Regions from separate parts of the Homo sapiens genome. Here region 2 is linked to region 1. A link means that fine-mapping ties the variant in region 1 to the expression of a gene that starts in the linked region. Tissue or cell type: whole blood. Region 1 holds a variant in brackets; the other region holds the start of a gene. All regions are shown on one strand. Distances are between the middles of the regions.

Region 1 (8,108 bases):
GTTGAGTGAAGGGTGAGAGGGAACTCTCTATACTATTTTGGCAACTGAGTCTAAAATTATTTCAAAATATAGTTGAAAAGAAGGGATAAGACTGTACTTAATTGTATAAATAAAAAGTCCCACTTTGATCTATCTTACTTTTGAAATGGAAAACCTATCATTCTTTGTTAAAGAAAGGGGGAACAGTTAAAAGATAGCCAGTAACTAATGCACATAGTAAATAAAAATTGCTATTAAGTATAAGCTGACTTCGATTCATAGTTTTAGAGTTTCAGGATATTCTGGGAAAGAAATTTGCTGATGTAAATGTATAATGTCAGCAATATACTATCACTGCTGTTATTAATATTTTGATAATGTTTGGTCTGTCAAGGACCAAAGCAATTCTGTATTCTATACAAGCAGCTTGTATACATTTTATACTTCTAAAGTAATTATTAATATATTTTCAGTTTAATTTAAAGATTGTTATTTACTTTGACCAGAGGAATAATTTAGGAATCAGAACAGTAGTTTACATCTCCAAGTTAGCAAAATGTGACAGATACATAATCTGTATTGGAAGTGATTTAAGCCTGGTATTTGTGATTCATCAAAGGAAAGCCCATTTGGTCTAGGTTGAAATAGTTTCCTTAGATGAGGAGTACTCTCCTTTTTATCAGTTATAGTATTCTTCACATCCATTTTGGTTCCAGGACTAAATGACATCCACGCCACACCGTGTATCAAAACACTCTATAACACATTTTTAAAAACCTCTAATACATTCTGATTGTTTTATAAAAGAGCTATCTTTTAAAAGAGCAGACCAAGTTCATGACAGAGAAGTTCTCTGGTGCATTCTGAAGCAAATAGAAAGAAAACAACAAAAATCTTAGAAAACTCGTAACTGACAAAATCAACTGCATTTGTTTTAGTTTGGAAACAGCACCAGCACCAGTTTCTTTCTTCTAAAAGAGTAAGAATTCACAGCAAGAATATTATTTTTGTTTACAAGAATTGTGTCTGAACCCTCTAAAATACGACTGTCAAGTCAAATGTCAAGAATGTTAATTAGTGAAAGGAAGGGGAGGAGTTGACGGGAGGCAGGCCGTCAGCACCAGCTCACTCTGTAAACAGAGCTGTGTCTTGAATTCCACAGCAATGGCATGGAGGCATTCTTTGAAAAGAGGAGATAATAGATGATGAAGTATCTAGCAAAAAAGATATGAAAAGCTTCTGTCCAAACACTGTTTATCAAACAAATATACTCTGATTGTAAACTGCCTAAAACTTGAGTTTCAGTTTGTTTAGCTCACCAGCATGTGAGTGTGTATATTCACTATTTGAGTTTTATTTCAGTTCTTCTCATTGAGGTCATTCCTTGTTTGAATTAGCTCATGCCCTCTGTTCAGAGGATCTCTTCAAAGTAGATTACAAGATTCAGAGATATTTTTTAAGTCCATTGATAAGTTCTCCAATTCTAAATATTCCACTGTTTAACCATCGGCCCATTAGCCCAGGCACAAAACAGGGAAGAAAGATACACCCGCATTAAAAACCAACAGGTTTTTTATTTCCTCAATGCTCCTGTGTCTTACCCTATTTAGAAATCATATGGCATATGCAAATAGATGTGGATAGGTTTGACAATTAAGTTATTATTTTATTTTTCTTTTAGACCTAGAGTTTAACCAAAACCATCGCTTCCATGCAACATCGCCCCAAATTCAACAGAGTGGGACTTGGCAGACAAGTTTTAATTATAGACCTTGCATCTATCTTGTGTCCATCAATATCATGGTTAACTTGGAAGTTAAAGAGGCATTTTGCAACATCACAGGTCTCTTCTCAACTCATTTAAAATTAATCCCAGTTAAAATAAAAAACACAAATCAAACAGGGCATTTTTCATATTCATTTTGTAGGTGCACTGTCAGAATTATAAATCAGCTTTGCCTAAGGAGTAAAATGAAACACACCCAAATGTAGTATTTTTAGGAAAAAATGTCTGGAAATGAGTGCATATGTTACTATGAATTTTTGTTAAAGATAAGCAAAACTCTAATATGCTAAAATTTATTGACTGGACAAAAATCTCCTCCACAGATGCAATTATTCACATACTCATTGGTCAAATATTTAGTGCATGCCTTGAGGATACACCACAAATCAACCCCTTCTCTGCTCCTCTTCCCCAGTCTCCAAAATCTACCTCCTACCTCCAACCCCACACTCACATGGAATTGCAAATAGCTTGATTGGATAAGCATGGACATCAGAGAAAACTCTCTGATACATTTTTGACACTTGCTAATAAAAGTATGTTGGGTGTTTTTCTTTCTACCTAAGGATGTTCCACCCATCATGGAGGGAAAATGGGGCTAAGAGAAGCCTGCCTCAGCTGGTGGGGTCATATCCACTCACAGATGTTAAGGAGTCTCCATGACAATGAGGACTTGAGGTGGGGAAGAAGAGACCCAGATATCTGCTTTGCCTTCTGTTCAAAAGCCAAGTGTCTGATTTTTCAAGTCTAGGGCTTTAAAACAAAAATCTCATTTGCAACATGCAGTCAGCAGCGGGGTGCCAAGCTCAGGACCTACCCCAAGGGGCTAGCAGCACTGTAGCCTCTGAGACCACCGTGCCACCTGGCTGTGCATTCAGATGTCATCCCTCCCCTCAGCAGGGCCAGGCTGACCACCAGACCGGCTGTAGAACCAGTTATTTGTACACCATGTTTGAAATGGACCTCAGAAATGGTACATTTGGTGAAAGTCAGGGTGTTCATAGAATTTATTATCCAAACTGGACATTTTTGAAAGAGAGAACTATTAATAATCATGCCAGGTCAACAGGCATGAGTGGAGCATGCCCCACAAAGACTTGGACACATGGCCATACCTGTATTTTTCTGTTTAGCAATTTGCAATTACTGCACACTTGAAGCATGTGTAGCTTCCCTGAGGCTCCACCTCTAGGGTTATACTGCCTGGAAATGTATTTTGGGGAAAAACAAACTTGTTGAAGAAAATGTCCTCACAAATGTGTAGCAATAACTCTAGGGGAAGTCACATTCCCACTTGTCTTGCCCATTGTGGTTAGAGGAGATTCTAGAATTAGAAAAGAAACCAAAAAATGAAAGATCTGCTCTAAGGGCTTAATTTTGCCCTTCAGGAAACAA[A/T]CATACAGAGTGGCCCGTGGGTTCTTTAAAAATGTTCCCCATCAATCTTCCACCTCCTGTTCCTTCAACTGCCTCTATCTTATTTCACTTTTTGAAAAAAGTTGTTTTATCTCTGGCCTAGAAACTTTGGTACAGTTTGTCAATATCAGGAAGTCCATTAAGTAAGATTGCATATTATCCTTGCCAGAGCACGGCTGGCTGTCCAGCAGACATCATTTTATGTTTTTGTCTTTCTTTATTTGAAATACCTTTGATGTATCATCTCAGACAAAAAATGTAGTTGTTCAACAGCTCAGGGAAGAAAGCCTGAGCTTGCCACAGGAGGAGACAGGGCTAAGGCTGGGGAGTTGGGGGGAGTGTAAATAAAGTAGAGGACTGGGCAGAGCTACAAGAAATATTTAGCATTCCTGGCTTCCCACAAAGGGTAGGTCAAGGAGAGGGAATGAGCAGTTGGGATGGAGCGTACACCACAACTATTCTTTTTCGGTCCTAATCCAGTCCACTGTGACACATAAATGTCCCCAGTGGGCAGACCCCGAGTTTATTGTGTTGTGTGGCAAATGCTGAGTAATTACACACGATGCCTGTCTATATGCAGGATGGGGTCAAACTCTGTGGCAAAGACACAGCTGCTGGTTTCATGGCTGTGTGACAAATCCACTTTTGCTAACAATCGTCAAAGCCATATTCATAACACTATGTGTTTAAGGGATTGAGCACTAAAAGTCCGCTTCCACAGGCCCCTGTCAAAACAAAGTCCACTTCTTTACAGTGTGCCCACAGGCTGTCTGTGTCAAAAACCTGGTGTCACTTTTTGGAGTGGGATCTTGGAAGAGGAGCCATGCTCACTGTTGTTTGCCTGGATAGTGAATTGAAGATGGGGCTCTCTTTTCTTGAAACTCTCGGCGGGGTGGGGGGGGAAAGAAACGCGCCTTAGCATCCAAAATAAAGACAACCACACATACACCAAAACAGAAACAGCCATTTTGTTTTTAAAAGATCTGGTCATTGACAGGCTTTCTTTCTGCCCCGCCACTATGGTCTTCTCGGGTTAATTCATCTCCTGCTGCTGCAGGATCTATAAAATACTGTATTGAGATGACTTCAGTAGGTTTCCAACAGTGGGATTTTCCAGCTACTGGAAATACCCAAGGCCAGTGTAAACTCATTTGTTTTTCTTAATTTGAGCCTTAATTGCAGAGCCTACTTTTTGCTGGATGCTAATCCTCTCAAGCACTTCTGAGGCAAACACTCTAGGAGAGGATGTGGACAGAAGTACCCACGGAAAAGGGGACACTGTGACAAAGGGGTCAGCAGGTGAACAAATGTCACATATACCTCCTCTGTGTCATGCGGATGAGCAGGTTCCAGGTGATGAAAGTGAGAAGGTGCCTCCCATTGCAGGGCCCTAGCAACATAATGCTGTTCAGAATGCTCTTAATACAGAAGTGCCTATATTAGTCAGTGTTCTCCAGAGAAAAGGAACTACTGGGAGAGAGAGAGATTAGAAGGAATTGGCTCACACAATTATGGAGGCTGGCAAAGCCCAAGATTTGTAGGGTGAGTTGACAAGCTGGAGACCCAGGAGAGCCAATGGTGTAGTTACAGTATGAAGGCGGGCAGGCTTGAGGTACAGGTACACTTCAAGTCCAAAGGCAGCAAACAACTAATTTTTCCTTCTAGTTCAAAGGTCATCAGGCAGAATAGTTTCTATCATGTTTAGAGGAGGGTCAGCCTTTTTGCTCTATTTGGACCTTCATCTGATTGGATGGGGTCCACCTACATATGGTGGGCAATCTGCTTTCCTCAGTCTACTGATTCAAATGTTAAATATCATCCAAAAATATCCTCACATAAACATCCAGTATAATGTTTGACAAAATATTTGGGCACCATGTGACCCAGGCAAGTAGACACATAAAAAATAATCATGGCAGCACCTGGCCATGAAATGATAAAACCGAGCTTCAAATCTAGCTCTGTCTGACTCCAAAACCCATATCCTTTCTACCACTGTAGTGACCGATTTTGTTCTCAGGAAACTTAATTGTTCTTAAGGAGGTAAGATTTATAAACATTAAAAACTCTGCTTAAGAAAGGTATGTGAGGCCAGGTGCGGTGGCTCACATCTGTAATCCCAGCACTTTGGGAGGCCGAGATGGGCAGATCACCTGAGGTCAGGAGTTTGAAACCCTCCTGGCCAACATGGAGAAACCCCATCTCTACTAAAAATACAAAAACAAGCCGGGCGTCGTGGCAGAGGCCTGTAATCCCAGCTACTCGGGAGGCTAAGGCAGGAGAATCACTTGAACCCGGGAGGTGGAGGTTGCAGTGAGCCAAGATCATGCCATTGCACTCCAGCCTGGGTGACAAGAGCGAGACTTCATCTCAAAAAAAAAAAAAAAAAAAAAGGTATGTGACATAATGTGTTACATTATGATAAATGATCAATCATATTAATCAGATAATTGACCCATCAGCTGTAAAGTGTGAACCATGTTTACACCCAAGTTTTATTCCCAGTGGTGTAAATGTCCTTTTTTCACTATTTCTTGAGTAGGATACCAAGTGTAACACACACTGGAGTGTCTTTCAACTCCACAAGGAAGCTGGAACTCAGAGGGGTCTGGACCTTCCAGGCAAGTCCCTGGCTCTGCTCAGGAAGTCTAGCCATCTGCTGATGCCATGTGATATGGTTTGGCTGTGTCCCCACCCAAATATCATCTTGAATTGACCTGGTAGCAAGTAATTGAATCATGGGGGCGGGCTTTTCCCATGCTATTCTCGTGAAAGTGAATAAGTCTCATGAGATCTGATGGTTTTATAAGGGGCAGTTCCCTCCACATGCTCTGTTGCCTGCTGTCTTGTAAGATGTGCCTTTGCTCCTCCTTCACCTTCCACCATGATTGTGAGGCCTCCCCAGCCACGTGGAACTGTAAGTCTGTTAAACCTCTTTCCTTTATAAATTACCTAGTCTCAGGTATGTCTTTATTAGCAGCATGAGAAAGGACTCATCATGCTACATGGTGACAGCAGTGATGGAGACAGTGCCCAGGATTGCCTCCCCATGACAGCTAGCAAGGGCTGTGATGCTTTACAATTACTGTCAGCCCAGAATTAACTTCCATTCCGTAGACATTCATGGGTGCCTGCTATAATACATAAAAAGCACAATATGGAAACAGGCTGGGGCCAAAGGGAGACAAAGACCCAGTCTCTGCCTTCCGAGTGCTTGCAATAGAAGGGGATAAGAAACACAGCTGTGTAAGAGAGATGCCAGATGATAGATACATGCAGTATACTCTGGCAGTTCCCAAGGGGAGAGATATCACTGCACCCTATGGGGAGCTGAGCAGAGGAGACATTTGACGTAGGCTTGGGAGTATGTGTAGGAGTCCAGCAGATGGGGTAGGGAAGGAAAAACAGGAGCAAATGCACAAAAGAGGAGAAGCAGAGGATTTTTCTAAACAGCAATGACTCATGCAGTTTGTCTGAATTGTAGAATATACGAGAGGGAGTAGCAGGAATGAGACCTATTTTCTGGGCTTGCACTTCACCCTAAACTCCAGTCATCTGTAAGATTCATCTCTTTTGGCTCATCCTCCTGAGCAGGAGCAGACAACCCCAGGCAACAGGCAGCACTTGCCCAGCAGTCAGGCTGCTGAACTGCTCTCCAGTGTGTGTGCATGTGAGGACCCATGAAACAGGGGCCACAGTGTCCTCCCCACCCAGGAACTCAGCCTGGTTTATGAGAACAAACCTCGTTGGCCTGGGCAGCTGGTCTGATCCACTTCCTGAACTCCTGCTCTCTCTGTCCTACCCCACCACCCAGGCCAGCCTCTCTGTCCTGAAGCTGAGACCTTCTGAACAGAAGGCTGGGTCAGCTCTGCTTGCAGCCAGAGGACACTGAGAAGGCCACCACTTACAGGGGCCCTTCTCCTCTCAGGTCCCCAGTGCTCCTAGGGTGGGCAGCCAGCACTGCTTTCCATCTGATTCCAAGCAATGGCTAAGGCTGGTGGCTACCTATCCATTAAGCTGTAAGATGTTTGCCCTTGGGATGTGGTTTAAGTGTCAGTCTGAGGTTTAAAATAAAACAAAACAAATTCTGTTTCACTGCATCTTTAATTGTCGACTTCTGGGGAAGTATCTTCTAAAGATGTGCTAGGCACAATCACCCGTGGGCCAAACTCCATGAACAGAAGTGGGCATGTTAGAATCCTGCGTCAGCTCTTCCCTCATCTCACTGCCTGGGAAAGTGTCTGGTTATAACCCCAGCCCCAACTTCTCAGCTCTGACGCCTGCTGTTCATCAAAACTGACTGGAGGGTTGCTAGAAATGCAGAGGCTGGGGTCCACCCCAGACCTGATGAATCCTAATCCTCAGGCTGAGAACATAGGCCTATGGGCTTTTATTTTTTATATATCTCCCCAGGTGATTATTATACACAGCCAGGGTAGAAAACCCCTGCCTTAGGCAAATGCCTTATAGATTTTTTTTTGCATTCATATTCTCTATTCATTGCCTCCTAGAATTTCAAGCATTAGGAAAGATCTTGGAGATCAACTAGTCTAGCACTTTCTAAACTCATGGTAGTGAGAACCAGCGTAGGAGCTGGGGATATAGTGGGCAGTCCTTCCCAGGCTTATGTGACTCAGAACGATCTGCACTTAGAGTAGAGATTGGCATCCCACTGCTGGAGGGACACAGGTGGGAAGTACTGGCCTAGCTCACCCCTGTATGATGATACAGACTCTGGACCTTCTGCTTCATTCCCCTCTGCCTGTACTGCTTCTGCCTGACCCTACACCCCCAGCTTGGGGTGGAGATGACACCTGCAAACACATGAGACACTGGTGGGAAAACCATGTTCTAGAAGTGTGTGAAATGATGCAGGCAGTGGCCCAGGTGACTTGGCTTTTTTCTCAGTATTGCTTTGAGACCATGCCAT
Region 2 (8,108 bases), 98 kb before region 1:
AGCTAATCACAAACCCAGAGCATCAAAGCAGTGGAGGCCAAGGCAGGCCCTGTGGGTTTTCCGGGGCAAGCAGTAAGGACAAGGTTTCAAAGGTTTCCTTGTTGTGTGTTTCTTATCTAGCAGGGCCCAGGGGATATGCTGAACTGTAACAGGGCTTGACTTCTGCCATGGACACAGCCCAGTGCCTTTCTGTTCACTTTACCTGTAGCTCCTCTTCTGCTGAGTTCTTGCAGCAACATCATCAACAAACATGGACTAAAACGTCCACTGAGTGCCGGGACTGAAGGCCCAGGTAGTGTGGTTCCTGCCTTCAAGGAGGGGATTGTCCACAGGTGGTTACTGGACTCTGCAACCCCGGGCTCCCCAGAATTTTGAAGCGAGCACACAGTCTATGCTAGAGCTTCACTTCATCCCCAGCCACCAGAAGTCCTTGTCCCTGGCTGTGGCTTGGCTTGCTTTCTCACCATATAGTCCCACATTTTCACCTAGTAAATCTCTTCGTTTATGGCATAAATTAAACTGCTTATGTTAACCCTAGCAGTGTTCATGCTAGATCCACTTTCATGCCACATATGTGGGATTGAATCATCTTTAATAATAAAATAATTTACATAGTGTTCCTCAAGGCTGGCAATTACTGTCATCTTCAACTGTGAGATACAGGGTGATATGAAATTATTTCCTTGCCAGAGGCCAAAAGTCATAACAAAAATCAGATTTAACAACTTCTCTGCCCCTCCTCCCCATTGGTGGGGGTGTGGTATTTAGTATAAGGTCAAAAAGACCTGAGTTCAAACCCTGCTTCTGCTATTTAGCTGTGTGACCTTGGCCACGTTACTAAACCTTTCTGAGCCTGTGTTCTCATCTGGAAAAGAAGAGCAATATAATAGTCTGCCTTATCCTCCACGGATATGTTCCAAGACCCCCAGTGGGTGCCTGAACCTTGGACAGTACTGAACCCCATATATACTATGTTGTTTTTTATACATACATACCTGTTATAAAGTTTAATTTGTAAAGTAGGCACAGTAAGAGATTAACAATAGAATAATTATAACAATGTAATAAAAATTACATGAATATGGTCTCTTTCTTTCTTAAAATGCCCCATATTCACCTATTTTCAGACCATGGTTGACTATGGGTAACTGAAACCCTGGAAAAGAAAACCACGGGTAATTGGGGACCACTGTACTATCTCTCTCAAAGAATAGTTATGAATATTACATGACAGAACCAGTATTAAGTACCTAGGAAAAAAACAAAAGCAACATTGAAAACCTCAACCTTTTATTGTGGCTACTCTGGGCCAGGCACTGTTCTGAGTACATAATCTTTTTTAACTCCTTTAATCCTCAGGGAAATAATATTATCTCCATTTTACAAAGGATAAACTGAGGTAAAGGTGAGGTAACTTGCCCAAAGTCACACAGGTGTTAAGTGCCAGAACTAGGACATGTGCCCAGGCAGCCTGACTCGGAGGCTTCAGAAGTTCAGTTTTTTTTCCCATCCCCTTAACCCAAAGAGCTGCTGACTTTCACATAGGATTAGCCACTCATGCCTGCACATATTGTGTTGTTAAACTGCACACGCATGTTTAGGTTTTGCTTACTGCACAACTTTGGGTAAGTTATATAACTGGTCTATCCTCAGTCTCTACACCAGCAAAATGGGGATACAACGGTTCTTTCATTAGATGATTGCTAGAAACAAGTAAGATAATCAAGACAAAAGGCTGAGAAGAGTGCTTGACACATAGGACGGGCTCCACTTAGGAAGTGCTTTTAACATCCAAAGTAATGAACAATGCAATATATTAGGAAAATTCTTGGTCTTCTATGGCTTGGTGAGGCACACAAGATTTTGTGGCTGGCTGAATCCAGTATTTTCAAATGGCTATCCTTGTTCTCTGGCAAACATACTGCATTTAAAAATAGATTTCTCATTCAATCAATGAAAAGAAATACAGGTTCACAGGATTCTGGTTAGTAAGAAATGAGACTGGGCCTAGATAAAATCTGACTGAAAGCAAGAATCTGAATAACAATAATAATAATAATAATACGATCAGAGCAGTCTTCTTGGAGGTTTTTAGGTTACGAATTATATTCCACCCACTGGATAAATGTTACAGTTAATGGTCAAAGAATTTGTGAAAAATCTATGGCCTGGCTAAAAAAAAAAAAAAAAAAAAATCTTTGGGTGATACAGGTGAAAGCAATTTTATCCCCAACACTGTTGAATACCAGGAACTTTATACATGAAAAAAGCACAGCTTTTGTGAGCATGTTGGACATAAAACAAAACACCACATTAAAGGAAAGGCTGGAGCGCAGACAGGGCAAATGAACTCATGTGAGCCCTTCTGCAATCACTGTTACGGCTTTGTATTTATTCATCTTGCACCGCACTTAAATGTGCAATAAAAAGCAAAAAGTGTGCAACACTTATTACTCTAGCTGCTTTTACTTGTTCCATAGAGATACGTGAAACAATTTCACTGCTCAGATTGAGGGAAAGAGGAGCTCATCTCATTTCAAGCCTGTAGCTGCTGCCACAGCCTCAGCACCATGTTCTAATCATAGAATTCATCATGTAAATCTCTAGCAGATGATGCCATTGGAAAACAGAAACTGCCATGGATCCAGAAATGCTTCCAAATTTCTCCTCTAAAGTTCTTATCTGTGAGCCCAGAGGCTGGTGCTGTTTTATTCAAATGGGTGAGGCCCATTGGGAAACCCGCATTCTTTGGGAGACTTTATGAAGAATTTCAACCATTCCTTGACTATAGAAAGGGCCTTTATCATTTATTTCACATATGAAAATGCTAAATATTTCACAACTACTCCAACTTATTTCTGAGTGTCTAAATCTATTCTGAAAAGGGTATGCATCACACACATACCTGTGTAGCTTATTAACTACCAATAAGAGCTCACACAAATTGCAGGGGGTATGAAAGAGTAGACTTCTGGAACTGTCCAGAAAAGAAGAGAAGGTACATTTCCTGGTTTTAAGATGAAAGAGCTTGTGTAAATTAGAACATTACAGGAGCCTTTTAAATTGTCTTAGGGATACCTTTGGGGCATCATCGCTGGTTCCTGGTGAGTCTTTTTTCTCCCTGTGATGTTAACAGGAAGTCCCTAAAACTGGCTTTGCTATTAAAATACAGACATCTGCTGCTCTCCTAATTTTTGTTCCTTTTAAAAGGCAGTACTCCCAAGAAACTCTTGGATATTGTGAGAATTAAGAGCTGGGAGATGGGGATGGAATCTTTGTCTCCCTAACACATTCATCAGTTCCCTCCCTAGAGCCCCCCTACAACCTCAGCACACAGCAGCAGCCCACTCCTCCAAATACGCCAGGGCTGGAAAGATTCATGTTGCAATACCCTCCTGACATTCCTCATTTTAATTCGCTCACTTTTTTTTTTTTTTTTTTTAAACAAAATGTAATTACTTGACTGTCAGCCTAGGCTGCACTCTGGGGCTTTTACTCCTTTCAACACAGCTGCGCTCCCGGCTTTGATGCTGCTGTCCACGCAGCTTGTCCCAGCCACAGCCTGGCTCTCAGTAATGTAACATTCAAGTGCATATTTATTTTTAAACTGACCTCTCCTAGACTGCACAGTATAAAGGAGATCCTGCCCAAAAATATGCTACTTTCTATTTATAAGATGAAACACATGCCTCCCAAAGTCGAGAGAGGGATAGAGTATAATAATTCATAACGAAAAAATGGCCAGATCCATTCATCCTCACATGTCTGATACTTGTCTGTGTCAAGCCACTTAGTTTCAAGGAGAAAGGGAAGAAAACAAAAAACAAAAAACCTTGTAAACGTCTCAGCTGTTCACCGTCAAAAAACAAAAAAGTCAATATCCAGATCTGCAGGTTGGCGCCCCACTAACAATGTCCTCCATTAAGAAAGAGGAGGGCACCGGGCAGGCGATGCCACGGCAGAGCTGTGCGATGCACCCATGTGCGGCCCTGGTACCAATCCATGATGCGAGGGGCGCGGTAGCCAAGCGCGGCTTGTTCTCAGATGGAAAAATGCTATACGCGCCCAGAATGGCTCTGCCAATAGCTCGGAGGGTGCAATGTGGCCGCGCAGCCCCACCCTGAAAAGTAGTGGGCACAAATGGTGGAGCTCTGAGTCCTGGTCGTGCCGCCGGACCCCCTCCTGGCTTGCTTTATGTCCCCTTCGTTCCGTTGGACACTAGATGGGAAAGCGATGCCCTGGGTATCCCGACTCCCTGCTGGTTTCCCAGCCTAACACCAGCGCACGCCGGAAGCGGCCACGGCCGCGGGCGGGACAGACTCACAGACAGGTAGAGAGGAAGGAGCCCTGGGCTGCCCCGACTCACCGGCCGCCGCTGAGGATCCCAGCCGCTGCCCCGGGCCTCCCGCGGGCGCACGCAATCCCTGCCGCTGTGCGCAGATCCAGCCGAGTCTGCCGGCGTGGTGCCTGCTCACCGCATTATCCGCTCCGAGACGGCGTGAAGGCGCCCCAGGCCGGTGGCCGGGTCTCCGGGCTAGCCCCGCGCTGCGGTCCCCCGGCCGCGAGAGAAGGTGCGCGCGACTGAGCGCGGGGCGGCCGGACGCGAGGACTGAACCTGCGGAGGGCGGGGCGGCGCGGGGCGGGGCCGGCGGCGCGGGGACTCACTGGGGCGGGGCGGAGGGCGCGGGCAGCGGGGCCGACCCTCCCAGCCGCGGTACCTGTGCCCTGGCCCGGGGCCAACCGGTGGCCGGGCGCGCGCGCGGGGGGGGGTCACCGTTGGACCCTCGGAGGACAATGGGCGCCCATTGTTACCTCCCCAGCGCCACCCCCCAGTAGGCGACTTCTCTCGGAGAAGATGCCGCTTTCGACTCCCTAAGCACAAAGAAAGGTCGCCGGACGCTCGGTTTAAAGAGGGACCCGGAGGTGCTGCCGCCCGGGTGCACGGGGACAATAGGACTCCGCCCGCACCCCGGACTCCCGCACTAAAACTCGTGCGCCCACCTCTCCCGATCCCAACAGGCCGACCTAGCTGTGCGAGTGGCGGGCGGTGACCCGCAGGGAAGCGAGGCCACCTGAGTGCGCCGCCCCGGCCAGGCCGCAGCTCCCCAGGTCCCTCTCAGCCCGGGCTCCGGTGGGCGCGGAGGGGGAGGGTCGCGTTCTGTCAGTTTCTAGCTCGCTCCCCTCAGAGCTGCAGCCAAAACCCGGAGAGTGGAATAAGCGCCCTGAAGATGCCGGAGCTCCCGGCTGAGCAACTGGACACGCGACGAACAGCAGACGCTACAGGTTCTCCTACCCAGAGGGAGGCGTTTCTTCTCCCTCAGGGTCTTTCAAAAGGATTTGCCTAAAGCTGGGGCAAGCCGGTGGCGGCTGCCCCAGACGCGCGACGAGGCGCAAGTGGCGCAGCTGCCGGCCCGAGAGAGTAAAATTCAGGCCGCGGTGGCACCTGCGCCCGCCGGTCACCCGGCCACCGCCAGCGCCGCCGCCCGGCGCGCCCCTCCCCTCCGCCGGGGCCGGAGCGTGAACCGGGTTAATGAATGCTAATTTTCTTAATCGGCCTCCGTCTCTTCCTCCTCCGCGAGTCGTCGGCCTGGGGAAGGAGTAGGCGACAGGAAAGGGCGGTGTTTTCCGGCTGGGAGGTCCCAGCCCGCATGGTCAGCCAGGGGAGGGGGCTGGGACCCCTGGGAGTCGGACGCTGGGGGCCTGGCCTCTGCCCTGAGACTCTCGGGTTGGATGGAAATCCTGGCACAACGCGGAGAACCTCCCGGATACCTTGGCTTTGCCGAGAGATATCAGCTTCAGGTCATCACCGCGGTGCCCTGGGTCTGTCTGAAACCTTAGAGGGTGCGCCTTAAGCCGATGTTGTAAACCCAGGCTGACTTTAAGGTGAAGTGAAAAGGAAACGCACACAATCTGGAAAGCAAAATACTTGGGTGGGGTGTTAAAAGCCTCAAAGAAAAATAGTAGTTGGCAGGTCAAATGGCCATGAGGTTGGAAGTCAAATACGAAACTCGGCTGAAGTGATGTTAGAAGTTTGACAAGCAAAAACAGTCCGTGAAGATAAGAGACCCAGCATTGTTTCCCTTCTTCAAAAGACAACTCGTCCAAAGTTTCCTTTGGCAGATACCTGGATTCTACTCCAGATTCCTGAGCATTTTACTTGGGTTTCATATTTCAAAATATATGTTCCATTTGGCACTAATGTATATATTTTATATATTAATTTATTGAAAAATATTAAATGTTCCTGGCCTACTTAGAAAAAGGTATTTTTATAAATATTTATGCATAGTTTTCATTACATAGGGTATTTTATAAGTCCAAATAATATGTGTATATATATAAAATACCACATGCAAAATTCCTTTTGAACACATAAAGACATTCCCGACACACATGTCTTGTATGTAATTTTTTTCACGTGATCTATTGTTAGCTGCTGTTAAAAGCACTTTATTTCTACATGGCCAAATAAATAACTTCTTTTACAGTTTTTGCAAATATAGAGTGGCAGTTTGTCTGAAACGGCATTTTTATTCTAAAACCTATTTTTACTTTTCTACATTATCCCTTGCCTTTTAGAGGCTTTCTCTCCCTCTGCCGTTTTTAAATGAGACTTCACTGCTGGACTCTAAACAGTTATCCAGGACCTGCTCATTCAAGGGCCTGGTGGTTTGATTTATCTTGGCTCCTTTGGCCTCGCCTCCCCACCCCTCCCCTGCCCTCCCCTCCCCACCCCTCCGCTTCCCTCCCCTCCCCTTCCCTTCCTTTCCTTTTTTTTTTTTTTCCCCCAGGGTCTCAAACTCCTGGCCTCAAGTGATCCTTCTGCCTCAGCCTCCGAAAGTGCTGGGATTACAGGCATGAGCCACCATGCCCTGTGCCTCACGTTATTTCTTTGTACTGAACATCTTCAGTGAGTAACTGATCCCTCATATAGTGAATTATTCTTCCAAATGAGTGCATTTCCTGTGCTAACTATGATAGCTTGTAGAGTTGATGGATTTAGGTTTCAACATGTTATGGGAGTCTACTACCGGAAGAGAGGAAAAAGCTTTGCTTCAGGAAGATTTTAGGAGTTTTGAGATTCTGCTGTGAATTTTGGAAAGGTTTAGCCTTAAAAACATTTGGTGGTAACCTTAGAAGCCTGGTATCTGTAGACCACCTGTCAGGCCCAACAGTGGGCTGTTTTTCTATTAGTCCCTACTTGGGAGAAAAGCCAAGTAGTATTGTCAGTGCCCTTGCTGTCCAGAAACCTGTGATCTACCTAAGTGCAGAGAGCACCTTGCCAGTGTACACAAGCAAATGCTGACCACATTCTAGTCTCTTGCTACCAAGTATGGTCCCAGGACCAGCAGCACCAAGCCTCACTCCAGGGCTACCAAGTTGGAATCTTCAGTCTAATGAAATGTGGATAGTTTGCGTGCAGATTTAATGTTTGAGAAGCACCGTCCATGAGTGCTTGGTGGTTCTCCACCTTTCAAAGCTACAAACTCATTTGAAAATCTCATGGGATTTATGAGCACCCTTGGAAAAGCATATTGATTGATACACAAAATTTTTCATATGCAGTTTCAGAGTTCCTGTAAATAATCTATTGATGCCAGGGAAGTCCTAGGTTAAGACCCCCTAGTCACAAAGAAGATTGACTCAGTGTCAGCTGGAGGAGTTAAGAGAAGATTCTCACAGGGGGCAGAGCTTAAATTAAACCTGGGGAATTTGATAGGAAGAGGAGTAAAGAAGAGCATTTCAAGCTGTTGAAATGCAAAGGTCCTGAGAGGGAAAAAGAGAATGTCCTTTTTTGTATGTGTTCATGTGAAACTTAATGAGGAGATTGTTGTTTGACAGCAGGCTTTCCTTGCAATTCCTTATCATCACTTGAACGTCCAGAAAATGAAGCCAGACTGTGGACTCAGTAGTCATTCCACTTTGGGTGTGCAAGAACCCTATGACATGGGGGTTTCACATAAGATCTCATTTCCTACTACTTTGCTCACCTCTCACTCTGCCCCAGCCACATTGGCCTTCAGGCTGTTCCAGGCACTCCCGACAACAGAGCCTGGCCCACTCTTGTCTGTGTGGGGATTCTTCCCCAAATCAGCAAAAGGCTCATT

The links. PIP is the estimated chance that this variant, and not a neighbour inherited with it, causes the effect.
Region 2: it holds the start of CDC42EP3, and the variant in region 1 is fine-mapped to the expression of CDC42EP3 in whole blood (TOPMed, PIP above 0.99).

What each region holds. Positions count from the first base shown.
Region 1 is chr2:37,765,119-37,773,226 of GRCh38, forward strand. The region is part of intron 2 of LOC107985869 (a long non-coding RNA gene); the gene reads left to right. Among named protein-coding and RNA genes, the nearest start is that of CDC42EP3, 98 kb to the left of the region's middle. The variant A/T (reference allele first, on the strand shown) is at 3,161.
Region 2 is chr2:37,667,060-37,675,167 of GRCh38, forward strand. It overlaps CDC42EP3 (CDC42 effector protein 3), which reads right to left and starts at 4,583. Exons shown (of 2, transcript NM_006449.5): 1 at 4,367-4,583. RefSeq lists silencers at 4,372-4,861, 5,032-5,091, 5,102-5,171, 5,392-5,561.